7 linked regions of the Homo sapiens genome follow. The protein of the gene in region 1 interacts with the protein of each later gene in a pairwise test. Each region holds a gene or a part of one and is shown on either strand. Other genes may lie near its edges. The genes, in order: PAXIP1, FBLN5, DNAJA1, DIS3L, TM2D3, SNX3 and ZNF251.

Region 1 (3,500 bases):
ACATTGAAATAGACTGTGAAATCCAATTCTAAGATCCAATACTGACATTTTTTTCGGAAAGAGTGACTTACATGTGCTACATTTGATGGCCGGTTCATCTGCTGAATGTCAGCATTATTAGTAATATTCCTCAGTGTCCGTACAGCTGGACTCCAGGTAGCTATCATTTCTGATCTTTCAGAACTTTGGAGGTTTTGTCCAGCAGCCATTAAATTACCCCGGACCTCAGGGGGCAAAATGTTACCTGGGACGGGTGGGACATTGGCACACAAGTTAATCAACCCAGGCTCCTTTCCCTGAGGCAGCCTGCGTTTTGCTGCAGCTAACTGTGGGACTTCGGCCGGGGTCCAGTTTAAATTTCTCTCCTGTTTTTCCGGTGATGAATCTGAAGAATCATCAAACATTAATTCCCCTTTAGATTTTTCAGTGTTGGATTTAGGTGAAAACTGCTGGTCACCTGAAGGAGACCCTTCTTGAGAGCTGGCAGGGCTTGACTTCTCATCTGTACTACCCTCATTCTGAGAATCTTGTTCCTCATTTTCTACTTCCTCCTCCTCTTCCTCTTCCTCTTCTTCCTCTTCATAAATAATCAGACGAGGATGATAAAATGCTTCGTCCTTTTTGGTTTTCTCTGATACGCAATCCAGAACCCAGTCAGGAGTCACAATTTTAATACTTGCTCGCTTTAAAGCACATTCGTATTTCTCCTACGAGGAAAGCAGAAACACACACAAAACAAAGCTGTAAATTTTATCACATTTCCTACAATTACGCATTTTAGAAAAAACTCAGTCAAGGAATGCAGTTGAAATGTTGAGCAACTATTATTACAATTTTATACAGAAGCAACGTTTGATCTTTTAGACAGAGGACATGAGGCAAAAGTGAAAAGGAACCATACAGCAGTGATCATAGGAAGGTCTCACACCTGTAGCAGGAGTCTTAAAAGACTTGGCTGAAAATTAACTTTTTAAAATGATATTTTAAGTACAAAAGTAGAGCTAGTAATCCTATGGAAAATTATGAAATGAATAATTGCTACCTAAGTTTTTACTGATTGATAATATTTAGAAGCTTGGTTTTCCATGACAGTTAGTAAAGTAACAGCGTGGCAGAGTGCCGCCAATGCATCACGTACACTCATGGAGCATGGCTGACTTGGCTGACTTGCATAGGACAGCTCTATTCAAGATCCAGTATTTATGGAGCTCATGCTATATGCCAAGCAGCACTAAGGGATGGAGACACAAAGGATGCAACAAGTCTCTGACCTAACAAGGCTCACAATTTGGTTCTAAAGAGATATTAAATACGGAATGCAAATACAATATAAAACCACTGCTGAATGATGCAGTAACAGACTGGAAGGGAATCTCATCAACATAAGCTGGAGGGCAGGAGGAAAGCCCCGTTGAAAGGTGAGCTTTGGCTGGGGCACAAATGATGACAATTTGCACAGTTAGAATGAAAGCAGAAAATACAGCCCACTGGAAAAGATGTGTCCGGAGTAGTATGTTCGGCAAGCTAACAGAGACCTCTCCTGTGGTAAAGGGTGTAGAATGTGGAAGGCACAGGGGAGGGAATAACAAAGAAAGAGGAAATAAATAAAAAATGTTAAATAAGAGTAATATGACAATAAAGTAACCTTAAAATAAATGAGTTGTAAATTTGGCTGTGCTCCTAAAAGCTTAACACATAACAGCAATTCTCTAGCAAACACATAATCAGGGCCCTAAACTAAACTCCGTGTCCTGTTGCAGAGCCCCAAGGTGGCATTTGCAATTTCTGGGTGGAATAAGAGTCACACGCAATAGGGATGCGGGGCAGCAGCACAGAGAGGACAGCTGTTGGTCATTCGGTCCTGGCAGCGAACGCCAGGCATTGCCCATCTGGGAGATCCTTGCAAATAGTGAGCTCTGCACACAGCTCAGTGACTTAACTTGTGTTTGTGAGTTTGTTCTTTCTCAAACCTTTTTAAAATATAAGAAAAACCTAGTCATGGGAGACACCCATGAATAAGAAGCTAAGCAAAGGAAAATGAATGTAATCATAATCACACTGACTAGAAAGGACCACGATTAACATTTTTAGGGTATAGTTTAAATTTATTTTTGTTATAAATATATATGTACATATATTAAAAGGGCAAAGGGAAAAAACATATAGTCATAGTGAACAAATACTTTATAATGTTCCTTTTTCACTTAATATATTGTGAACAACCTCTTCCTATGAAAACATGTATACTTTTATGCTTTTGTTTTTAACTTTTTAATGTACATTTTCGAACACAGACCAAACTTTTTAATGTACATTTTCGAACGCAGACCAAACTTTTTAATGTACATTTTCGAACGCAGACCAAATTAGAGACTAGTGGAATAAATCCCTTGTATCTGTCACCCAGCTTTAATAACTGGCAATCTTTTACAAATCTTGCTTCTCCTGAACTTTGTTTACGGATCTCAAATTGATAAAGACTTTCTAAACCACCATAATTATCATAGCAGCACAATGAACTATGATTCACCTCATCCTCAGGCCCTATTCAGATCTCCCCAGTAGTCTCAAAGGCTTTTACAGTTTCCTCTTCGGTTGCACAGCTGTGTACCTTAGTTCATCCCCCAGTGTTAGCCACGTGGTTGTTTCCAGTGTTTCACTACTATGAAAAACTGCAGTTATATTTTATGACAAATTCCTAGGTTTTGGTGTTGAGGTTTGAAAAGGAATAGATTTAAGGCTTCATATCTCTAACTACACTTCCCTTCCCAAAAAGGCTATTCCAATTACACTTCCAACAGCTATGTAAGAGTACATCAATTTACCTATACCCTCGACAATAAAATGTCTTATTCTTTACCCTAAAAAATCATGCTGTTCTTAAATATTTAAAAGCATAAAATGTTATATAGCTCTCCCCAGATGATAAATTTCTACTAGAGATTTTCAATTTCTGGACTACCCATTCCAGAAAAACCCAAGTTATTTTAGGAAAATATGAAGTCCAGGTACACAGCAGAATATTTATGAACCAATTAATACAAAAATATCATCTGCTTGAATAACATATGACTATATGTAATATGGTTTACATATGATTTTTCCAAGTTAAAAAGATATCTGTTGAAATAGTAAAATATGAAAAAAAGTTATTTTTAATTGTTTTAACAAATACCAAAAAACAAAACAAAACTACTGCCATGAAGAGGAGTCACTGAAAATTTTGGATATGAAAAAGATAATTTCACACTTAAAAGGCTGGGATCCAGTAGGCTCTTGAGTTCCTAGTTTGTATAGAATGCTGGCATTTCACATTTCAGAAATAACTTGACTATTTCCTGTGGAAATCTAAGTAAAACACTTAGGTAAACAGCCTTACTATATTTCACTCAAGTTTTCTCTCGCTTTTCACAAGATAGGTAGTTTTTAATCACTGAAAGACAGTAACTGTTTAAACAAAGATGATTTAAGAGGAAAGCAATGTTTAGATGCCTTTGCCT
Region 2 (2,892 bases), on another chromosome or scaffold:
GCCTGTATGTGCCAGACACTATTCTAAGTGCTTTCTATACAGTAACCCTTTAATCTTCACAAGAATCCTATGATATAGGATGGTTTTATCGTCCAGATTTTACAGATGAGAGCACTGAGGCACAGAGCTAAGCAACCTGCCCGACTAGTCTCACAACTAATAAGCACCAGGGCAGGATTTGAACCTAAGCAGCCTGGCACCAAAAATCTGTGCTGTTATACTTTTCTTCAGAATGGGGAGGTATGCTTTACCTACTCTTCCAGCTTTGGGGTCTCAGATGAAATGGAGATCACAAGAAAAGTCTAACATCCAGTTACAATAGAAAGTATTCCAGAAATAGCAGTTATGATTGTATAGATACTGTTGTGGCCACTGCTACTGTTGCTGCTACTGCTGCAAGGAGGCTGGGAGCTGCTGGGCCATGGAGAGCTTGGGAATGCTACCCAGGGGACTGGAGCATCGTGTGGGAGGTGGGGCTGGATGGCCATCCAGGCTCTCACACCCTGAGATTCATTGATTTGATTATAACCACATGGGAGGAGCTTCATCTCACCCCGCAGGCAAACCACACACACACACTTGCATGCACACATGCACACACTTATGCCCACATGCGTACGTGTACACACACACACAAGCCCATTCATAAGCCTTATTGGCTGCCTGTCTCTCACTGAGCCCTAGAAAGAGGACTGATGATTGGCTTTGGCCAGGTGGCTTGGGGGTCATAATTAGGGCCAGAAGAAGGAGCAAGGTCATGGGGTTCAGACTGTGCCAAAGTGCACTTACTCCATGACACACGTGGATCAAGTGACAGGGCCCATGGAAGCTGGCCTGCTACAGCGTGGCTGCTTGCCACAGGTCAGACCATGCCATCCCACAAGTTGATTAGAATAAACCTGAGTGTGTTTGGGATCAGGGCCAAGAAGACACACAGCTGGTGGGCTGTTGGCAGCCGACTCCCAGCGTGGTCAAGTCCACTGGCGTTCAGTCATTCGTGTGCATTCTTCCGTTACCAGCGTGCATTCAGCACCACTGCATATGAGGCTTCAAGTCAGGCACTGAGCGTTGAGAAACAAACAGGATGTGGTCTCTGCCCTGGAGGAACCCACACACACCTTAGCGGAGAGGGGGAAAACAACCTAGCAAACACAACACAAAGTGGCGATTCTCAAGTCAAGTCAAGACCCATGGGATGGTGAGTAAATGGAGAGGTACAGAGACCTTATCAGAGAGTGTAGTGGTTAGAAGCATGATTTTTGGAGCCATAAAGTCTAGTACCATGCAGTAGTTTGGTGGCCTTATGTAGTATCCCTAACCTACTTAGAGCATAGGGTTGTGAAGATTAATTAAGAGGTGTAGGAAAGGTTGTAGCCAGATGCCTGGCATCATAACCACCACCGTCATCACTGTCGCCACCATCCTCCTCCTCCTCATCTTTTCGCACCACCAAGCCTACTAATGCCCACGGGCTCTCAGGGGTTTATTTCATTAATGCCCTGGCTCTGCCCTAAAAGCCGAATGTGGAGGTGGCTGTCCTCAGCTCTTGTGGCAGGTACTTGAGCTCTTCCAGGTGCTTGTGGGTAGGGTGGACCCAGGTGGAGGCCGGACTCACCAGCTTCTGCAGTTACTTCCAAATGGGAGAGTCTAGGATTTCAAATGGGATAGTTGAGGATTCTTTCGTACTCAGGAGACATTTACCAGGAGAGCCCAAAGGAACAACTTGGAAGTTTGCACTTGCCCCCTTCTCCCTTCCAGACCTTGGGCTCTGCAGATCTCCCTCTGGAGGGCTGTCCCTAGCTCAGGGTTCTCAACTCTTGGTCTTTGTTCACGCAGTGAAAGCTGGTGAGATATTTGTATATGTAAAGGCTGCAGGCATTTCCTTGTGTGGCTTTACCCTCTGAAGCCCTGGCCCAGGGCTCAGGTTTCGTAAGGGCTGACAAGGAAGTCCAAGAAATCTGCGTGAGGAGGTGCCAATAACGTGGATGCTGACGGGAACAGGAGGAACCAGTGCCAAGAGGAAATTGTGTGGCTGTCAGGCTGCCGATAGCCTCATGGATAGGGGAGGTCCCAGCGCCTGGCCTGCACCTGTCTGCCAGCCCCACCCTTGTCTTACTTGTGGTGGCTCTTGGGGATGTTCAGAACTTTATGGGGCGCCCTCCTTTTATGGAGACAGATAAAACATCTAGTGTAGCTTTAAACCAGCTAGGTTCCTTTATTTTGCAGAGACTGTTGCTTGCAGCTTCTGGGCACAGGGCTGGGCTCTGCAGTGTATGGGAAGTGATTGTCCAGCCCATCCCTTTTCTTCTTCACACTGTTTCCTCTAACAGTGCCAATATCTGTCCCTTGCACTGACCGCGAGCATCTCTCATTAGGTGGGTGCTAGGAAGAAGTGAAACACACATCAGCCTCTTCTGATACCTGCTGTGCAGTGAAAAAAGCCTGGGGCTTGGGGTCAGAAATACCTGAATGGAAGCCCTTGGTTCTGCCCAAGACTAGCTGGGTAACCCTAAGCAATTATTTAACCTCATGGGACCTCAGTTTGCTTACTTATAAAACGGGGAAGTAATGAGTCATACCTTTCATACAGCACTTAGACAAGGACAGCCAGGGCCCCCCCACCTGGGTCCTGTGCTTTTAGATCAATATTTCTCAATACTTAATGTGCACACAAAGCCCTGGGGATTGTGTTAAGCCACAGATTCTGGCTCAGTAGATCCTAGCCCTGAGATTCTGCATTTATAAGAAGCTCCCTGGTGATGCCCATGCTGCTGGTCCAGGGACCACACTTTGAGTGGCAAGGCCTTTCAGGGTTTTATGAGAATTTTTTTTTTTTTTTTTAGCTGGAGTCTCGCCGTTGTCCAGGGTGGAGTATAGTGGTGCGATCTCTAT
Region 3 (3,500 bases), on another chromosome or scaffold:
AAGCCAATTAAGTGGGCCAATACGCTTATTTAAACTAGCCCAGGCCAGGTATGGTGGCACACACCTGTAATCCCAGCATTTTAGGAGGCCAAGGCAGGCAGATCATTTGAGGTCAAGAGTTTGAGACCAGCCTAACATGGTGAAACCCCATCTCTACTAAAAATACAAAAAAAATTAGCCAGGTGTGGTGGTGCACACCTGTAGTCCCAGCTACCTGGGAAGCTGGGGCAGGAGAATCGCTTGAACCCAGGAGGCAGAGGTTAGAGTGAGCCAAGATCGCATCACTGCACTCAAGCCTGGGCAACAGAGCAAGACTCTACCTCAGAAAAAAACAAACAAACAAAAACATGCCCATTGGTTTAAAAAATAAACATGAGGCGGGGTGCGGTAGCTCATGCCTGTAATCCCAGCACTTTGGGAGGCCGAGGCAGGTCATCACCTGAGGTCAAGTGTTCGAGATCAGCCTGGCCAACATGGTGAAACCCCGTCTCTACTAAAAATACAAAACATTAGCCGGGCATGGTGCTGGGTGCCTGTAATCCCAGGTACTTGGGAGGCTGAGGCAGAAGAACTGCTTGAACCCGGGAGGCAGAGGTTGCAATGAGCTGAGATCGTGCCATTGCACACTCCAGCCTGGGAAACAAGAGCGAAACTCCGTCTCCAAAAAAACCATGAATTTTTATGAGACCCAATTCTTCACCTAACTCCCCTTTCAAATCCTTAAAAGTATGCCTATCCCTTGATCTAGTAACTCCTAATTAAGAATGTGTACAATTCTAATGTTTTAAAAGATGGAAGAACTATGGTTTAACAGGAGAGAATTAAGTTTGGAACACTATTCAATCATTTACAGGACCACAGATTTCAAAAGATGATCCTGTTATATTAAATGAGGAGATTCCTAATATATTCTGTATTAGTAATATACCAATGTGCAAAATTATGTCTGGATAAAAGAACATTATTTACTAAGCTGCTAAGAGTTATTTCTGATTGATAGGATCATATATAACCTAATTAAGAATGATTTTTAAACAATTATAAAATGTTAATAATAAATCTGCCACAGCATTCAAGACTTCAGAATAAGTAACTCAGAACTCACCTTTGTCAATATGAACTTCTAAAATTTTCTTCTCTCGAACTATCTTCCTTCCGTTGCAGCTTTTACATCTATCTTTAGGACTGATCCGCTCCCCATGGCCCTGGCACTCCATGCACACAGACTGAATTTGCTGAACCATTCCAGGTCCTATCTGATGAATTCTTATTTGCATTCCAGTACCTCGGCAATTGGGACAGCACTCTACTGCTCCTTTCTTACCTCCTCTACCTAAATTTAAAAAGAAAATTAAATAATGTATGAATTAGTAGTGTATACAGTAGTAAATGTTTTAAGAAGACAATTCCTAAATGCTATACTTTTAATATTTTCGAAGCCTGATGGAATGCTACCCTCTGAATGTACAACTGATGAGATCATTCCAATGAGTTTCATTCTTATTAGAACACACTTTCCAATAAATTTTACTTATTACAAAAAAGATACCAAACTAGCTTGATCCCAACTGTATTTAAAATATACACAGAAAAAAGTGCTGATATTTCTTTAGGTGGGAGGTTTTCAGTTGGTTTTCTTCATATCTGCCCTCTCCTCCCCCAAAATCTAGGTAGTGTACATGAATCAATTTTACATATCTATCTAGAAGTCTTAGCTCCATTTTCAGGTGTCATATTAAAGGTGCTTAAAAACAAAACAAAACAAAACAAAAAAACACCGTACCTTCACATTTGTCACAAATCACATTCTTTTGCAGAGCCAGTTTTCTTGTTGCACCATTATATAAGTCTTCTAGGGTTACTGAGAGCTGATGTACAACATTTTTACCTAAAACAAAATATTTCTCATTGCAAATCTGTTTAAGATGCTGGATCTTATTTGTGCTAAAGGCACTATAAAGAATGTGGCAAAGAATAATAAAAGATGAGCCTCACAGGGTACATCTGTTGACTACCTACTATATACACAGAATGTTCACGTTATCACAGATGATCCTCAAACTGTGATGTAATCACAGATGAGGGAAAATCAGGTCAGAGATTAAATATTTGCTTAAGGGCACAGACGTGGCCATCTTGGAAATATGGTAAGCAAAAGCATTACCTTCAAAGTCACTTGAGAAAAACCAATGTTATTTAAAAGGGCACATTTCACAATAATCCAAACATTCATTTCTGTCACAATATATTTTTTGAAGCTTTCACTTCGTACCGTATTGAGCAACATGGCCAATTACTTCATCCAAAAATTCTGTAGCACAGTAAATTCTCATTAATCAAGATTGGCCAGGGAAGCTGATGTATTTATTGAGTCACCACAGAAGAGTATCAATTTCTACTTCTTCCTGATTTAGTAGAAAACAGCCCATTTACTGCTGGGCCAGCACTGGTTGTTTTGAAGGCCAAATTTCTCATACCTTTTATAATAGCATTGCCCAACAGAACTTTCTGCAGTGATAAATGTTTTATATCTGTTCTGTCCAACGTAGCAGCCACCAATCACATGTGCTTATTGAGCATGTAAATGTGGCCATTTAGACTAAGAAACCGTATTTTTGTTTTTGTCTTAAATTAATGGAGCCACACATGGCCAGTGGCTACTAAGGAGTGCCTTACTTCACTTAAATCAGAATAGGAAATGGAAGGTCAAGATCTCATAAGGACACTGAGGTTAGAAGTATGAAGTCACCTGCTAGTAAGTTAGTAAGTTCCTAACTAGTGGTCCTTCCACAAGGACTTATTCACAACAATATTATTGCCTTTCCACCAACTGAAAAAAGTTCTCAAACTCGTTTCTGTACAATATGCCTAATGAACATTTTAACTTTCTAATCAAGCATGAAATACCATTAATTATGTCCTTCTGCTTATAGTTCCACCTTTAGTTTTGGCACGCTAAAATCTAGCTGCCCTTATTTTGAACAGTGTTGAGTATAAGGAAGGAAAAATAAAGCTTCTAGAGCTTGATGAAGCGCATTTCCCCAGAAATAACCTCTCAATATGATCATAAGCCACATAAAAGAGCTTGCCAATGTTAACCTGCAGGTTCTTTGTAAGGTAAGTGAAAAACCACCACTACTTTTTTGTGGACAAATTCTAACAATTTACTAAGCAAGTCATTTGGATTGTGGACTTTCTTTTTAAGGAGTTTAAGTATCTTAATAAAAACATAATCCTTTCCTTGAAGATCTTTAAAGAAAAACTGAATAAACAATTTCCCAAATCTTTCTGAACCTTAAGAAGCTCAAAGTGAAATTTAATGGCTTGGCCATTCATTCTAAAACTGGTTCTGCTCATCAGCCCTTATTTGTATACACTATACTGGAAATAAAGTGAGACTGATTTCTCTTGAACATTTTACTCCTATAAGCAGTATTTCTAGAGCCCATAGGCCACTTTCCTGATAAACATATTAAATACATAATTTTGACACAATAAAG
Region 4 (3,977 bases), on another chromosome or scaffold:
GGCAGTGGAAAACCAATAGTTTTTCATCAAGTTAACTACTCTTGAAATGTTCAGGAGAAAAAAACGTTTAAATTCCAACTCTTTGTCTTTGAATGTCCCAGGAACTGGTTTCTAAAACAATCCTTAACATTAAAAATATTTCAGAAAACAGAAGTTGAAAAGGCTCGCAGTGTGTTAGCAATCTGAATGATAACAACAAATTGATTTTAGTAGCAGAAACTGAAATATGACACCTGGAGCAGCATTTAAATTTGGATGTGTATAAACATCTATATCTTGGTGTCTGAACAAAATCAACTTGAAGATCATTTAAAAATATTCTATCTGAAAAAACCTGCACACAATCTGGTTAATGTATGTTTTTTGAACTGAGCATATAATAAGAGGACAATTTTTTGCCATTTTCATATACAAATAAAAACACTTCATCTTTTATCACTAAGGCCTGAAGAAACCACAACATTTTAAAAAAGAATAAATGCATAGTTGGTGCTTATTAAATAACTTAGAGTGTTAAAAGGTTGGACGTATAATTCTAATATGCTATTTCCATACAGTTTTAAGTTCAAGTCATAAACCTTTCCCAACATTAAAGGAAGCAAAATCGTTTTTCAAAGTATTTGTTTAAAAGGTAGACAGCTATTCTTCATTTAAGTACTAGGCAAGAATTTTAGACTTGTTCAATTAGAAAGCCTTTGTTTAGCAAATACAATGACTATGGCTGGTAGTTACACTAGTAATCTAAAAATAAAACAAGCTATTTCTGGTTTCATTGAATAAATCATTACAAGTACAATTTGCATCCCCAATAAAAGAGTCTAAAATTTAAAAATAAAGTACTCTTTTCCCCAAGAAAAGAACGTATGCTTCTGAAACAATGTATCTATAAATAAGATTAAATAATACACATTATCAACAAGAAATAAGCAATAACCCTGCCACTATAAAAATGCAAGCCAAAAGACAATTCACACTAGAATCTTAAATACCCACATACTGGGGACACTGCAGTTTACTAATCTACAGTCAGATCTCTTGGCCAGGTGTTGAAGCAGAAATATAAAATAATGTTACTGCATTCCTCACTATCAAAGAGAATACGAAATTAGTTTTAAAAGTCCCTTCTGACAAAATAATGAATTCCTCCCATCCCCCTCCGACAAGGGACCTTTTCTAAGGTGGGGGGAACCTATGCCATATAGAAATAAAGAATGCAAAACGTATACCTCCTGCCTCTTTGATGCTGCACAGCTTGACAAGCTGTCTGCATGAAAATAATTCCCTTCAACTCAGGAAACTCAAGGATCTCAAGATAATCTTGAACAACTTTCCAGTCTGGGATCACGTAATGAGTCACATCACTAGACAAGAGTTTCCCATCTGAAACATAATTCAAAATGTAAGAGATTAGACAATGTTTTCAAACCTGGTTTATTTAAATGTCACGGTGCTCTGGCATGCAAAATAACTTCCAGTCTTAACTCCATGGTGGGAGTTTTTAAAAGACAAATCTACTTTGGTAGAGGCCCAAAGTTCAGGTATATTGAGCACCCTCATTTTTTTGGAAGCTGTGATAAATACAAGCTCAACGTGGTTTATGGTGTTGCCAGAGGTGCCGGAGAGGATGGCTGATTTAACAACGAACAAGCACATTTTCAGCATAACCTGAATATTTCAGTGTTAACTCATCATTGACAAACACATTCAAATGAAGCACCCCCACATTTATACCACTTGTGTATGATGCCCAGCAATTTAAAGTTGGCTCTGTGTCAAGCTTCTGCACGTGCTCAGCAGCCTCCAAGGGCCAGAAAGATTGAACAGAGAAAATGCTCCGTGCAAGCAACGTGCAGAGGTGAGGTTTCCCACCAGACCTGCATCTGAGAGCTGGTTAGCCAAGCTCTAACTGAAATGTTCACCTTAATCACAATGTTTGGAGGATTCCACACATTCGCTGACAAGGACCCCCAGCCCATTCTCATCCTCCCATGGGGGAAGAGAGCCAGTAACGTGCATCGTTCTATCGGCCACCCTTGTGGCCTAGAAACCAAGGACTGGGGCCCAGGAGTCCCCAGTCCAACTTCCCCGTGACCTTCCGCTCCAGTGCGGGCCCAGAGAGTTCACAAATCTACGGTGAAGTGGCTCTCCACTGGGGGAAAAGTCTGGGGCAACAGTGCGGGCAGGTCAGGAAACCTGTGGCTGCAAAGCAGGCGATGTCAGCTTCGCAGCGGCAGCAGCTGGCCTGTAGCTCCCGGGGGCTCCCAGCTCGGGACCTCCCCATTTCTCCACGGCGCGAGGTTGCGGCGGGAGGAGGCCTCGGCTTCCGCGCCCTCAGGCCCCTCTGAGGAGCCAAACCACCCGGCCTCCGGCATGGGGTGCGGGTCTGTCGGGCCCTCCCATTGGACAGGGCGGAGCAGTAAGGGAGTCCCGGGCGCCCCAGAAGCCGCGGACCCGGGCCGCTGGGTCCCCACCGGCAGAGAGCCGGGGGGTGAGGCCGGCGAGCGGGCGCAGGCCGCGGGGCCTACGCCTCCGTGTCCCCGCCGCTGGCGCTCCGCCTCCCGGCCGCGCTCAGCCCCTCACTGCGGCCGCCCGCTCCCGCCGGCCCCGTCCCCGCCCCCGCCCCGGCCCTGACCGTGGCTGCAGGCGGCGGGCTGCGGGCAGAGCGGGCTGTGGCAGGGCACGCAGGGCCGCAGGTAGTGCTCGCGCACGATCCGCAGCGTGCGGCCCTGGAAGGTCCTCAGCAGCAGCACCTTCTCCCGCTTCTGCAGCATGGCGGCGTGTCTCCCGGCGGCCGCGGAGTGGCGGGCGCGGCGGAGGCAAGGCCGCGGCCTCGGACCCGCCCCTCGGCCCTAGGCGCCGCGGCTCCGGAACCGCCGTAACTGCCGCGCCCGGGGGAGGCCCGGAGCTACACGCTCCAGGCTGGGGCCCGGCCCTCCCGGCCTTAGTTTCTTCCCTTCCCTCAGTGGCCTGGACCAGGGCGGAGGGGTGGAAACGACCTACCCCAGAGACGGAGGGAAGACTAGGATGATACCTGGACGGCAGGTGAAGAAGGGCTGGGCGCAGCTGTCCAAGATTAGGAGACTTTGTTTGTCCCCCCCAGGTCCATGTGGGAATGGAGCCGCCGTATTAATACTAATACCGGGTAATTAATGTTTTCTCTTCGTTGCTCTCGCTATCTCCAAACGAGGTAAAAGACTCAGCACATAAGCCGGCAACCCTGCCAGCCGAACATTTCTAAAAAGTTATATTCATTTAAAATTACATGTACTTTTTTTAAAGTTTTTTTCTTTTTTTGTAGAGATGGGAGGGTGAGGGGGGCAGGTCTTGCTCTGTTGGCCCGGCTGGTCTCAGGCGATCCACCTGCTTCGGCCTCCCAAAGTGTTGGGATTATAGGTGTGAGCTGCTGCGCCTGGCCTTTCATGTTCTTTTTAAAATTTATTTATTTGTTTTGGTATCCCTATTGAAGTTATCATGTACTTATATAATCAAACAATGCAGATAAAATGAAAACCAATCTCTTCCCTTGAAGCACTGTTCCACTCCAACTTTTATAGCTTTTGCAGCCTCTGGCAAAGGATTTCTCCTTTAAACTGCCACTGTGACACAATCACAAACGTACATGTTTGTATTAATTTTTTTTTTTTTTTTGGACAGGGTCTTGCTGTGTCACTCATGCTGGAGTATAGTGCATGATCATGGCTCACTGCAGCCCCCGAACTTCTGGGCACAAACGATCTTCTCCACCACGCCTAGCGTTTTTTTCTTTTCTTTTCTTTTCTTTTTTTTTGTAGAGATGGGAGTGTCTCACTATGTTACCCAGGCTGGTCTCAAACTCCTGGGCTCAAGTGATTCTCCCACCTCAGCCTCCCAAAGTGCTGGGATTACAGGCGTAAGCCACCACGCCCAGCCTGTAGCTCTTGATAAAGAGATGCACACAGTCTCTTCTGAGATCACACACCCTTGATGGGATAGAATCC
Region 5 (3,500 bases), on another chromosome or scaffold:
GAAGTCTAGACAACTTTAAGACCAAATTTAAGAATAACCACTCTTGGAGAGAATATGGCTCATCAGGAACAGTTACATAGCGCGGGTGGGAATGCCAGTCAATACAGCCATTTAAAGAATGACACACGCTGGAAAGTACATGCTGAAGAAGCTCTTGCACCTGTGCCATTGGGAGACAGGCAAAGAAATTTGAACAGTCACAACAGCGGAAAACAGCACTTAACCAAATATATTGGAGAATAAACTGTGATACAATCTTACAATAGATTATTACACAGAAGTAAAAAAAAGAAGAGAAGTCACGTGGATGAATCCTAGAGCCACAATGTTTAGGAAATAAGCAAGTCCCAGAAGAGCACACAGCCTGAAATCATTTTACACGGTTCTAAAACATGCATTATTGAATATTATTTTATTACATATAGACAATAAAACTACAGAAAAAATTTAAAAGGAAGTGAAATAAAAAATTCAAAAGGGTGGTTACCTTGGAAGAGGAGGAAAGGCAACCAGGTGAAGGCAAGCACTCAGGCACTCAGGCGGCCGCAATGGTATTGGTGCTGCTTTCATTGTTATTTTGGGTAAAGGTCAATTACTGTGTATTATGCTTTATACTTCAAATGTTTTTCTTATTTTATCAAATATTACATTTAAAAAGAACTGCAATTTTCTGGATGCTTTACTTTAGTACGTTGAGTTTATTGATGATGCTTGGCACATCTAAAGAGCTGCTGATAAATGTTTCTAATTAAGTAACTTGACTCGCAAATTTCTGGTTAAAGTCCCTTCAATAAACTTGGAGAAAAACATTTTGTTGACAAATGTCCTTGAACTCTGACCTACCCAAGCAGTGGACGTGGTCCCGCACCGTGCAGTTGGCAGGGTAGCGCTGCCGAGGACAGGACACCGTCATGCAGCTGGTGGAGTTGGTACACTCGTAATCTGTTTCAGGAAGCTGCCAGCAAAATCTGCAAGTCATGTTAATGATGAAGTTCTTTTGGGATTTGAAGTCTTGATCCTATGTAGCAAATGACACAAAACTCATCAATCACAATGGTGTAGTCTGTTAAGATGTCAGTAAGACTACACAGTCACATGGCACAAAATTCCGTAAATGCTTGTATTTAGGACCTAGGAGTAAGTGCCAGAAAAACAGTTACCAAAACAATATGTATGTAAAACAAATGCCTATGATGTGACCTCATAATCATAAAACTACACACCCAAACATATGTACTTAAGGGAAAAAACTAGATAAATTCACATCAAAATAGCAAAGGTTATTTCAGGGTGATATAATTATTTCATAACTTTTGCTTAGCTAAATTTTTCATAGTAAACGTATACTTTTATAATGCAGAAAAGAGGAAAATTTATTTTAGAAAGTCACAATCACGGATGGCTGGAAGGAACTGATGAATGCATTTGTTGAAGGTCACTGAGCTTCAAGTGAGGAGTGGAATCCAGGTCCCTGAACTCCAGCCTGATGCTTCTGTAATGGTTAACACACCGCCTTGCTTCCGAGTTGCCAACCTTCCCTAACATCCCCTACCTTGCACAGCCTGGCAACTCAGGGTTGTTACAGCTGCTCCTACCACCAGGGCATGTGGCATGTTTAATCCAGAGGCAGCCCAACTCAGAAGCACCACATGGTGTGTGGAGGCTCAGTGAGTGTTCACTGGTGGCCAGAGAATTTTTCATTTCAATTTTAAAAGCCATTATTTTGTATTCTGCTTACAAAAGTAGAATGTTCTTTGTATGTTACATATTTGAAGATTATAGACAAAAACCTATAGGTGTTCAGAGCTAACCACTTTTAATCTTCTTTCCGTTTCTTCTACATGTATATTTATAAATTTACTAAAATGGAATTATACTGAAAGCACTTTGTAGTCTTTTTACTCTACCTGACATTACATTGCAGTGCATATTTTTCAAAATCATTTTTATGTGGTCACACATCTCTGGAAGCATCATGTATATATATGTATACATATATATACACATACACACATTATTTTTTTTTCTTTTTTTGAGATGGAGTCTCGCTCTGTCGCCCAGGCTGGAATGCGGTGGTGCAATCTCGGCTCACTTCAACCTCCGCCTCCCAGGTTCAAGCGATTCTCCTGCCTCAGCCTCCTGAGTAGCTGGGATTAGAGACGCACCCCACCACGCCCAGCTAATTTTTGTATTTTTAGTACAGATGGGGTTTCACCATGTTGGCCAGGCTGGTCTCAACCTCTGACCTCAGGTGATTCACCTGCCTCGGCCTGCCAAAGTGCTGGGATTACAGGTGTAGGCCACCACGCCCGGCCCATGTTTGTTATTTTTTTTAACATTTCACAAATTTGCATGTCATTTTTGCAGAAGAGCCATCCTAATTCTCTCTGTATGGTTCCAACTTTGGCATATGCGCTGATGAAGCAAGTACTATTCATTTTCTTATCAATGCAAAAACCACTTTTTATGGAAAACATTCAAATATGGGTAAGGCATCACTTGATTTAGGCAAACAGTTGGATCTGCAAAATAATACGTTTACATCTGCCTATTTTCAGTGATGTGCTTAAAACACACTTTTTTTAATGGTTTTTTAAAAAGTAGGTGACACATGTACATGGAACACATGTCAAGACACAACAGGAGAGTGAGAAGTGAGCCGGCCTCGTCTGGCCCAGCCGCCGGGAGCCCCTGCCCTCCCCAGGCCAAGTACGCTCTGTGCTTCCAGAGAGAGCTGATTCTACACATAGGCACATTTATGTCACCTACATTTAATGTTCCCCAATACTTTCACTTAATTTTGGACATCTATCAGTACATTACCTCTAGAGCTGCCTAGTTCTTTTTAATGGCTACAAGGTGTTTATTCTATTACACGTGTACCATAAATTAAGCAGTTCTTAGACATTTCACTTCTTTTGAATCTTTTGCTTTAATGAGCAATGCAGCTAAAAAATAAGCACACTTATCTGCATCCATGTATAATGATATCTATAACATAAATTCCTACATGTACAACTACGAGCTCAACGATTGTGTGCATGTGTAAGTTTAACAGATATGGCAAATCGCCTACAAGAGGTTGATCAATTTGATTACCTATTAATAAGATATGAGCATCTGACCCTTATACTCTCACAAACTCAGAGTTAATCAAATTAAAAAAAAATTGCCAATCTAAGGGTTAAAAATGTATTAATTAAATACTATGAGAAAACTTATATGTTTTTCATGTTATATATCTATTTGTATTTCCTTTCCTATGAACCATCTGCTCATGTCCTAACACTGTTTTTCTACAAGACTGTCATCTTTTCCGTGTGGGTTTTAGGAAGTGTTTATATATTACTGATATTACTGTATTATTTGTCACATATTCTAGAAACGCTTTTTCCTAGTTTGCCATGTCTTTTGCCTTTATGCTTTTTTTTTTAGGTCATGCAGAAATCTCCAATTTTTAGGAGTCAAATGTATCAATTCTTTATTTTATGGCTTCTAAA
Region 6 (3,500 bases), on another chromosome or scaffold:
CTGGGGAAGTTAACTTTCTTAAACTTCATTTATTTGTAAGTGTCCACTATGTGCCAAGCAGTGTTGGATATTGAGTAAGGGTGATTATGACAGTCCCTGTCCTCTAAGAGCTTATAATGGGTGACACAGGAACTTACAGGAAGCCAAAGACAAGCAAACAAATTTATTCCTAACAAAGCTACCAGGGCACACAGGAAGGAAATCTGGTCCAGAGTCAAGGGATCAGCAAAATCTTTAAAAAGGGGACATTAAGGCTGAGTCCTGCAGGATAAGTGATAGTAACCAGATGAGGCTCTTAAAGGAAGCCTGTTCTTAACAGAGGAGGAAGTGTGTGCAAAAGGCCTGGATACAAAAGAACTCAGCTTAATTGGGAGATACCAGTTCAGGACTGGAGTTAAAATGAGGAAAGGACAAGAGATGAGGATCAGTTGATCAGCTTCTACAGGAATATTATCTACTCTGCTTGGTTACCTCAAGATTAAATTTTATAGATAGAGCACAGTGCTTTGCACATAAAAGATACTCAAATGATACATCCCTTAACAGAACAGAATCCCTAAAAACTCAATATAACAGGACTACTTTAAAATAGCCACTGTCTTCCTCCCCCACTCTCCATTCTGGGGATGGATTAGATAAGGACAGAATCTTCACTGCTAATAGCATGCTTCTCCTTGATGGAGATCCTGGAAAAGTCAGCCGTAGCTGGCAGCAACATGTGTAACAGACAACATCTCATTGGCCAATTGATAGAGCTACATAGATTCTGCAGATGTCCTCTGGCATCAAAATGCCCTGATTTTTTTTTCTTTGCTTTGCTTTTTTTAGAGGCAGGGTCTCACTGTGTCACCCAGGTTAGAGTGCGGTGGTATGATCGTGGCTCACTGCAGTGTTGACCTCCTCCTGGGCTCAAGAAATCCTCCCACTTCAGCCTCCCACATAGCTGGGACTACAGGCACACGCCACCATGCCTGGCTAATTTTTAAATTTTTGTAGGGACAGGGTCTCACTGCGTTGCCCAGGCTGTGTGGCAACGCCTGAGCTCAAGTAGTCCTCCCACCTTGGCCTCCCAAGTGCTGGGATTACATACAGGAGCCACCGTGCCCGACCCCCCGATTCTTTAAAATACTATTAATATTTTAGCCCTTCAATAATACATGTTTATAATTCCCAAAAATAAGTCTAAGATTTTAAAATTTATTTCTCAGCTTCCAATCTGGATATTAATGACTCCTAATTTAAGATTAGATGACTGACCCAGAGGAAAAAACATATACAAGTTTAGAACGGCAAGCACTGTCAAGATAAGATGCTACATTTATTTAGCACCTTGTCAAAATTTTTATCAGCCAACGTTATTATTCAGCTTTATGCTTTAATAAAGCTCAACTTTAAAAGATTATTTGGAGCCTGGCATGGTGGCTCACACCTATAATCCTAGCAGTTTTGGAGGCTGAGGTGGGAGTATCACTTGAGCCCAGGAGTTCAAGAGCAGCCTGGGCAACATAGTGAGATCTCGTCTCTACAAATAATTTAAAAATTAGCTGGGTGTGGTGGTATGCGCCTGTGGTCCCAGCTAGTAGAGAGGCTGAGGTTGGGAGGATCACTTGAGCCTGGGAGGTCAAGGCTTCAGTGAGCTGTGACTGCACCACTGCACTCTAGGCTGAGAGACAGAGGGAGACCCTGTCTCGAAAAAATAAATACATACACAAAGGTTACTTGGTTAAGTACCAAATAAGATAGCTTATTTTTATACCATGCTTGCTTAATGAAGGTATACTTCCATGACAAGTAGGTTTCTTGACAAGAAAATCTAACAATTTTAGTAACTCAACTAAACATTAACACACAGAAAATGTAGTTGATCACTGACGTTTAATTTAGAAAATGTCTATCTTTAGAAAGAGCTAAATTTTGCGTGCTTATTATGTGCCAGGCACTGTGCTAGAAAGATTCATGTGCCTTATCCCATTTAGTCCTAAGAGGTAGGTACTATTATTAGCACACCTATTTCACAGAGGGGAAGTGGAGCTTTGATTTTGTATCTTACCCAGCTAGGAAATGTTAAATCTATTCTTTGAACTGAGGACTATGTCAGAGCTCAAGAAAGATTCTAATTCCATTCCTGTTCAAAACAGTGGTCTCCAGGTAAAATAGATCTTGATTAACTTAAAAATCTCCAGAATATTAAAGTTATATTACAGCACAAACTTCATAAACAGTGACTGAATTTTGCTTTCAGCCTTCTCTTGAATATGCCTAAATAATTCCAGACCTTGAACTTTCCTAAACCTTTAATCATTTATGGTGCTCTCTGCTGTACCTACCCATTAGAACAATTTTTAAAAACATAACACTGTGTAATTATTTTCAAAAGCCCAGAGATACTAATCAAGTGATCCTAATAGTCTTAAACACTATCCTCAAACCAAAAGATAAATGGAGATTGGGAAACTTGCATTCTAAGTGCCACCATCCATATAAAATTGCCCTGTGAATTAGAGTAATTTCAATCAGATCCTGTAAAACTGTAAATTTTTCTCAAGACCAGAATGAGACAGTAACTGTAAGATAGTTTAAAAGCCCAAATTCTGGAACATAAAATGGTTTTCCACATAGCAAATTCAACAGCAAAAGGTAGTCAGTAGGGGTTCGGGAGAGCAGCAACATTTAGAAAATAATAAATAAAATTGCAGGGCTGGGTGAGGTGGCTCATGCCTGTAATTCCAACACTTTGGGAGACTGAGAGGGGGAGGGCCACTTGAGGCCAGGAGTTCAAGACCATCATGGGCAACATAGCAAGTCTCATCTGACAAAAAATAAAAAATTAGCCAGGTATAGTAGTACCCTGTAGTCCAGCTACTTGGGAGGCTGAGGCGGGGGGAATACTTGAGTCCTCGAGTTTGAGAATGCAGTGAGCCACAATCATGCCACTGTGTTCCAGCCTGGGCTACAGAACGAGACTCTTATCTCAAGAAGAAAAAAATTACAAAATATTAAACTATTCATGTCATAGCCACTCTGCCTTAATGCAAGACTATAATTACTCTAAAAAATCATATGCTGCTCAAATAAGGCCTAATTTCCTTACTATATGGTGTCCTTAGTTTTAAGTTAACACATTACATACTAAAAGAAATCCAGGCTGGGCATGGTGGCTCACGCCTGTAATCTCAGCACTTTGGGAGGCCAAGGTAGGCAGATCATGAGGTCAAGGGACTGAGACCATCCTGGTCAACATGGTGAAACCCCGTCTCCACTAAAAATACAAAAATTAGCTGGGCGTGGTGGCGCGTGCCTGTAGTCCCAGCTACTTGGGCGGCTGAGGCAGGAGAATCGCTTGAACTCGGAAGGCAGAGGTTGCAGTGAGCCAAGATCGCGCCACTGCACTCCAGCCTGGCGACAGAGCAAGGCTCTGTCTCAAAAAGAATAAAAATAAAAATAAAAAAAGAAAGAAATCCAAAGTCATTTCATGCATTAAAAACTCAATTAGGTTTTCA
Region 7 (3,500 bases), on another chromosome or scaffold:
CACCACATCCAGCTCTTTTTTTATTTTTGTAGAGATCAGGTCTCACTATTTTGCCCAGGTTGGTCTCAAACTCTTGAGCCTCAAGCAGTCCTCCTGCTTTGGCCTCCTAAAGCACTGGTATTACAGGCCACAGTGCCTGGCCCCAACTGTGTTTTCTATAAGGAACCTGCTTCGGCCAGGAGTGATGGCTCCTGTAATTCCAGCACTTTGGGAGGCCGAGGTGGGAGGATCCCTTGAGCCTGGGAGTTTGAGACCAGCCTAAACAACATAGTGAGAAATCATCTCATCAAAAAGTTAAAAAAATTAGCTTGGTGTGGTGTTGTGTACCTATAAGTCTCAGCTACTCAAGAGGCTGATGTGGTAGGATCGCTTGAGCCCAGGAAGTTGAGGTTGTAGTGAGCTGTGATTGCACCACTGCTCTGCAGCCTGGGCAACAGAGCAAGACCCCATTGCAAAGAAAAAAGAAACCTGCTGTCTCATGACAAGATCTTGCCATGAACAAAAAAAAAGAAAAGAAGCCCACTTTAAACATAAAAACACAAAAGGGATGGAGAAAGATAGTAATCCAAAGAAAGCGGAAATATCTTACTACTTTAGACACAAAACATAACAGATCTTGAGGTGTATGGGCCTAACAACAGCATCAAAATATGTGAGGTTGGCCAGGCACAGTGGCTAACACCTGTAATCCCAGCACTGGGAGGCCGAGGCGGGCAGATAACTTGAGGTCAGGAGTTCAAGACTAGCCTGGCCAACATGATGAAACCCCATCTCTACTAAAAACACAAAAATTAGCCAGGCATGGTGGAGTGCACCTGTAATCCCCCCTACTCAAGAGACTAAGACAGGAGAATCACTTGAACCTGGGAGATGGAGGTTGCAGTGAGCCAAGATTGCACCATTGCACTGCAGCCTGGGCGACAGAGTGAGACTCCATCTCAAAAAAAAAAAGTGAGGTTGTCAAGTGTGGTAGTCATGCCTGTAATCCCAGCACTCTGGAAGGCCAGGAAGGGCAGATCGCTTGAGCCCAGGACATTGAAGCTGCGGTGAGCTATGATCACGTCACTGCGCTCCAGGCTGGGCAACTGAGTGAGACACTATCTCTAAAAACCACAAAACCAGCTGGACACGGTGGCTCACGCCTGTAATCCCAGCACTTTGGGAGGCCGAGGCGGGTGGATCACCTGAGGTCAGGAGTTCGAGACCAGCCTGACCAACATGGAGAAACCCCATCTCTACTAAAAATACAAAATTAGCCGGGCGTGGTGGCTCATGCCTGTAATCTCAGCTACTCGGGAGGCTGAGGCAGGAGAATTGCTTGAACCCAGGAGGCAGAGGTTGCAGTCAGCCGAGATTCGCGCCATCGCACTCCAGCCTGGGCAACAGAGCGAGACTCCGTCTCAAAAAACAACAACAACAAAATATGTGATGCGAAAACTGATAGAACTACAAGGGGAAATAGATGAGTTCACTGTCTGCAGTTGGAGATCCAGCACCCTCTATCGTAAATGGACAGATCCAGCAGGATGCAGTTGAGTTTAACAGCACCATCACATCAGTCAGCTGGGAATAATTTACATCTGTAGACTGCTTCATCCAACGATAGCAGAATGCACATTCCTGCCAAGCTCATGTGGAACATTCACTAAGATAGACCACATTCTGGGCCACAAAACACTTTAACATACTTGAAGAATAGAAAACATAGAATGTCTATTCTCAGACCACAATGACATGAAACTAGAAATGAAACCAGAAAGATAGCTAGAAAATCCTAAAGTACTTGGCAAATAACACACTTCCAAATAACACGAGTCAAAGAAGATATCTCAAGATAAATTTTAGAATATTTTGAATTAAGTGAAAATGAAAATAAAACTTACCAAAATTTGTGGAATGCTGTGAATGCAGTGCTTAGAGGGAAATTTATAGCATTGACTGCATGTATTAGAAAATGGGAAAGATCTAAAATCATAATGTAAGCTTTCACTCTAGGAAACTAGAAAAAGAAGAGCAAATTAAATACAAAGTAAGCAGAAGAAAAGAAATAAAAATTCAAGCAGAAATCAATGAAATGGAAAACAGGAAATCAATAGAGAAAATCAACGAAACCAGAAGATGGTTTGAAAAAACAATAAAATCAGTAAACCTTTAGCCAGACTAAGACAAAGAAGAGAGAGGACACAAAATACTAATATCAAATGAAAGAGGGAACATCACTACAGAGATGTCCCACAGACTTTTAAAGGGTAATAAAAAAAAAAAGATGAACAACTCTGTGCCCAAATTTGATAAATGAACCAATTCCTTGAAGTACACAATCTCCCAAACACGGGAAGAAATAGACAATCTGAATAGGGCTATGTCTGTTAAATAAGTCAAATCAACAATTACCTTCCAAAATAGAATCCACTGGGCTCAGATGGGTTCACTTATGACTTCTACCAAACATTTAAGGAAGAAATTATACCAGTTCTCTATAATCTCTTCCAGAAAATAAAAACAGAGGGAATACTTCCTAACTCATATGAGGTCAGTGTTATCCACCCAAATGCCAAAACCAAACAGACATTACAAGAAAAGGAAACTACAGACAGACACCTCTTATGAACATAAATGCAAAAATCCCAACAAAATATTAGCAAATCAAATCCAACAATGTATAAAAAGAATTATATACCATGACCAAGTGGGATTTGTCCCAGGTTTACAAGGCTGGTCCAACATTAGGAAATAAATTAATGTAATGTGATGTACCACATCAACAGGCTGAAGAAAGATCATGTGGTCATATCAGTAGATGCGGAGAAAGCATTTGACAAAATCCAACCTCGATTCATGATTACAAATTCAACAAACTAGGAATAGAGAGGAACTTCCTCAAGTTGATAGAGAGCATCTACAGAAAATCTACATTTTCCTTTATACTGGCAACGAAGAAGTGGAATTTGAAGTTAAAAACACATTATTTACATTAGCACCACTAAAGATAAAATACTGAGGTGTAAGTCTAACAAAATATGTACAAAATCTGTGAGGAAAAATACAAGACTGATAAAAATATATCAAAGAAGAGCTAAATAAATGAAGAGATAGTCTGTTCATGAGGAAAACTCAGTATTATCATGATGTCAGTCCTCTGCTTGATTTACAGATTCAACACAATCTCAATCACAGTCTCAGGGGCTAAGTGTGGTGGTTTATGCCTATAATCCAGCACTTTGGGAGGCTAAGGCAGGAGGATCGCTTAAGCCCAGGAGTTTAAGACCAGCCTAGGCAACATAGTGAGACCCCATATCTACAAAAAAATTTTTTTTGTTAGCTAGGCCTGGTGGCATGTGCCTATATTCCCAGCTATTTGGGAGGCTGAGGTGGGAGGACTGCTTGAGCCTAGGAGTCTGAGGTTTCAGTAAGTTATGATCATGCCACTGTATTCCAGCCTGGCTGACAGAGCAAGACCCTGTCTCTAAAAAACGAAAAAAACTCAGCAGGTTATTCTG

The links.
Region 2: the proteins of PAXIP1 (region 1) and FBLN5 interact in a two-hybrid assay, tested with the Homo sapiens proteins (one large-scale study listed by BioGRID).
Region 3: the proteins of PAXIP1 (region 1) and DNAJA1 interact in a two-hybrid assay, tested with the Homo sapiens proteins (one large-scale study listed by BioGRID).
Region 4: the proteins of PAXIP1 (region 1) and DIS3L interact in a two-hybrid assay, tested with the Homo sapiens proteins (one large-scale study listed by BioGRID).
Region 5: the proteins of PAXIP1 (region 1) and TM2D3 interact in a two-hybrid assay, tested with the Homo sapiens proteins (one large-scale study listed by BioGRID).
Region 6: the proteins of PAXIP1 (region 1) and SNX3 interact in a two-hybrid assay, tested with the Homo sapiens proteins (one large-scale study listed by BioGRID).
Region 7: the proteins of PAXIP1 (region 1) and ZNF251 interact in a two-hybrid assay, tested with the Homo sapiens proteins (one large-scale study listed by BioGRID).

Annotation. Positions count from the first base shown.
Region 1 is NC_000007.14:154,975,625-154,979,124, forward strand, and holds part of PAXIP1 (PAX-interacting protein 1), read right to left. Parts: intron 708-3,500; coding exon 72-707; intron 1-71.
Region 2 is NC_000014.9:91,871,803-91,874,694, reverse strand, and holds part of FBLN5 (fibulin-5 isoform 1 precursor), read left to right. Parts: intron 1-1,019; coding exon of another isoform or gene 1,020-1,198; intron 1,199-2,892. UniProt on the Homo sapiens protein: Essential for elastic fiber formation, is involved in the assembly of continuous elastin (ELN) polymer and promotes the interaction of microfibrils and ELN. Stabilizes and organizes elastic fibers in the skin, lung and vasculature.
Region 3 is NC_000009.12:33,028,273-33,031,772, reverse strand, and holds part of DNAJA1 (dnaJ homolog subfamily A member 1), read right to left. Parts: intron 1,889-3,500; coding exon 1,784-1,888; intron 1,334-1,783; coding exon 1,106-1,333; intron 1-1,105.
Region 4 is NC_000015.10:66,292,391-66,296,367, reverse strand, and holds the start of DIS3L (DIS3-like exonuclease 1), read right to left. Parts: upstream 2,801-3,977; 5' UTR 2,772-2,800; coding exon 2,633-2,771; intron 2,554-2,632; exon of another isoform or gene 2,282-2,553; coding exon of another isoform or gene 2,194-2,281; exon of another isoform or gene 1,920-2,193; intron 1,381-1,919; coding exon 1,227-1,380; intron 1-1,226. UniProt on the Homo sapiens protein: Catalytic component of the RNA exosome complex which has 3'->5' exoribonuclease activity and participates in a multitude of cellular RNA processing and degradation events.
Region 5 is NC_000015.10:101,645,882-101,649,381, forward strand, and holds part of TM2D3 (TM2 domain-containing protein 3 isoform a precursor), read right to left. Parts: intron 1,019-3,500; coding exon 844-1,018; intron 1-843. UniProt on the Homo sapiens protein: Probable positive regulator of Notch signaling.
Region 6 is NC_000006.12:108,254,541-108,258,040, forward strand, and holds part of SNX3 (sorting nexin-3), read right to left. Parts: intron 1-3,500. UniProt on the Homo sapiens protein: Phosphoinositide-binding protein required for multivesicular body formation. Specifically binds phosphatidylinositol 3-phosphate (PtdIns(P3)).
Region 7 is NC_000008.11:144,745,532-144,749,031, reverse strand, and holds part of ZNF251 (zinc finger protein 251), read left to right. Parts: intron 1-3,500. UniProt on the Homo sapiens protein: May be involved in transcriptional regulation.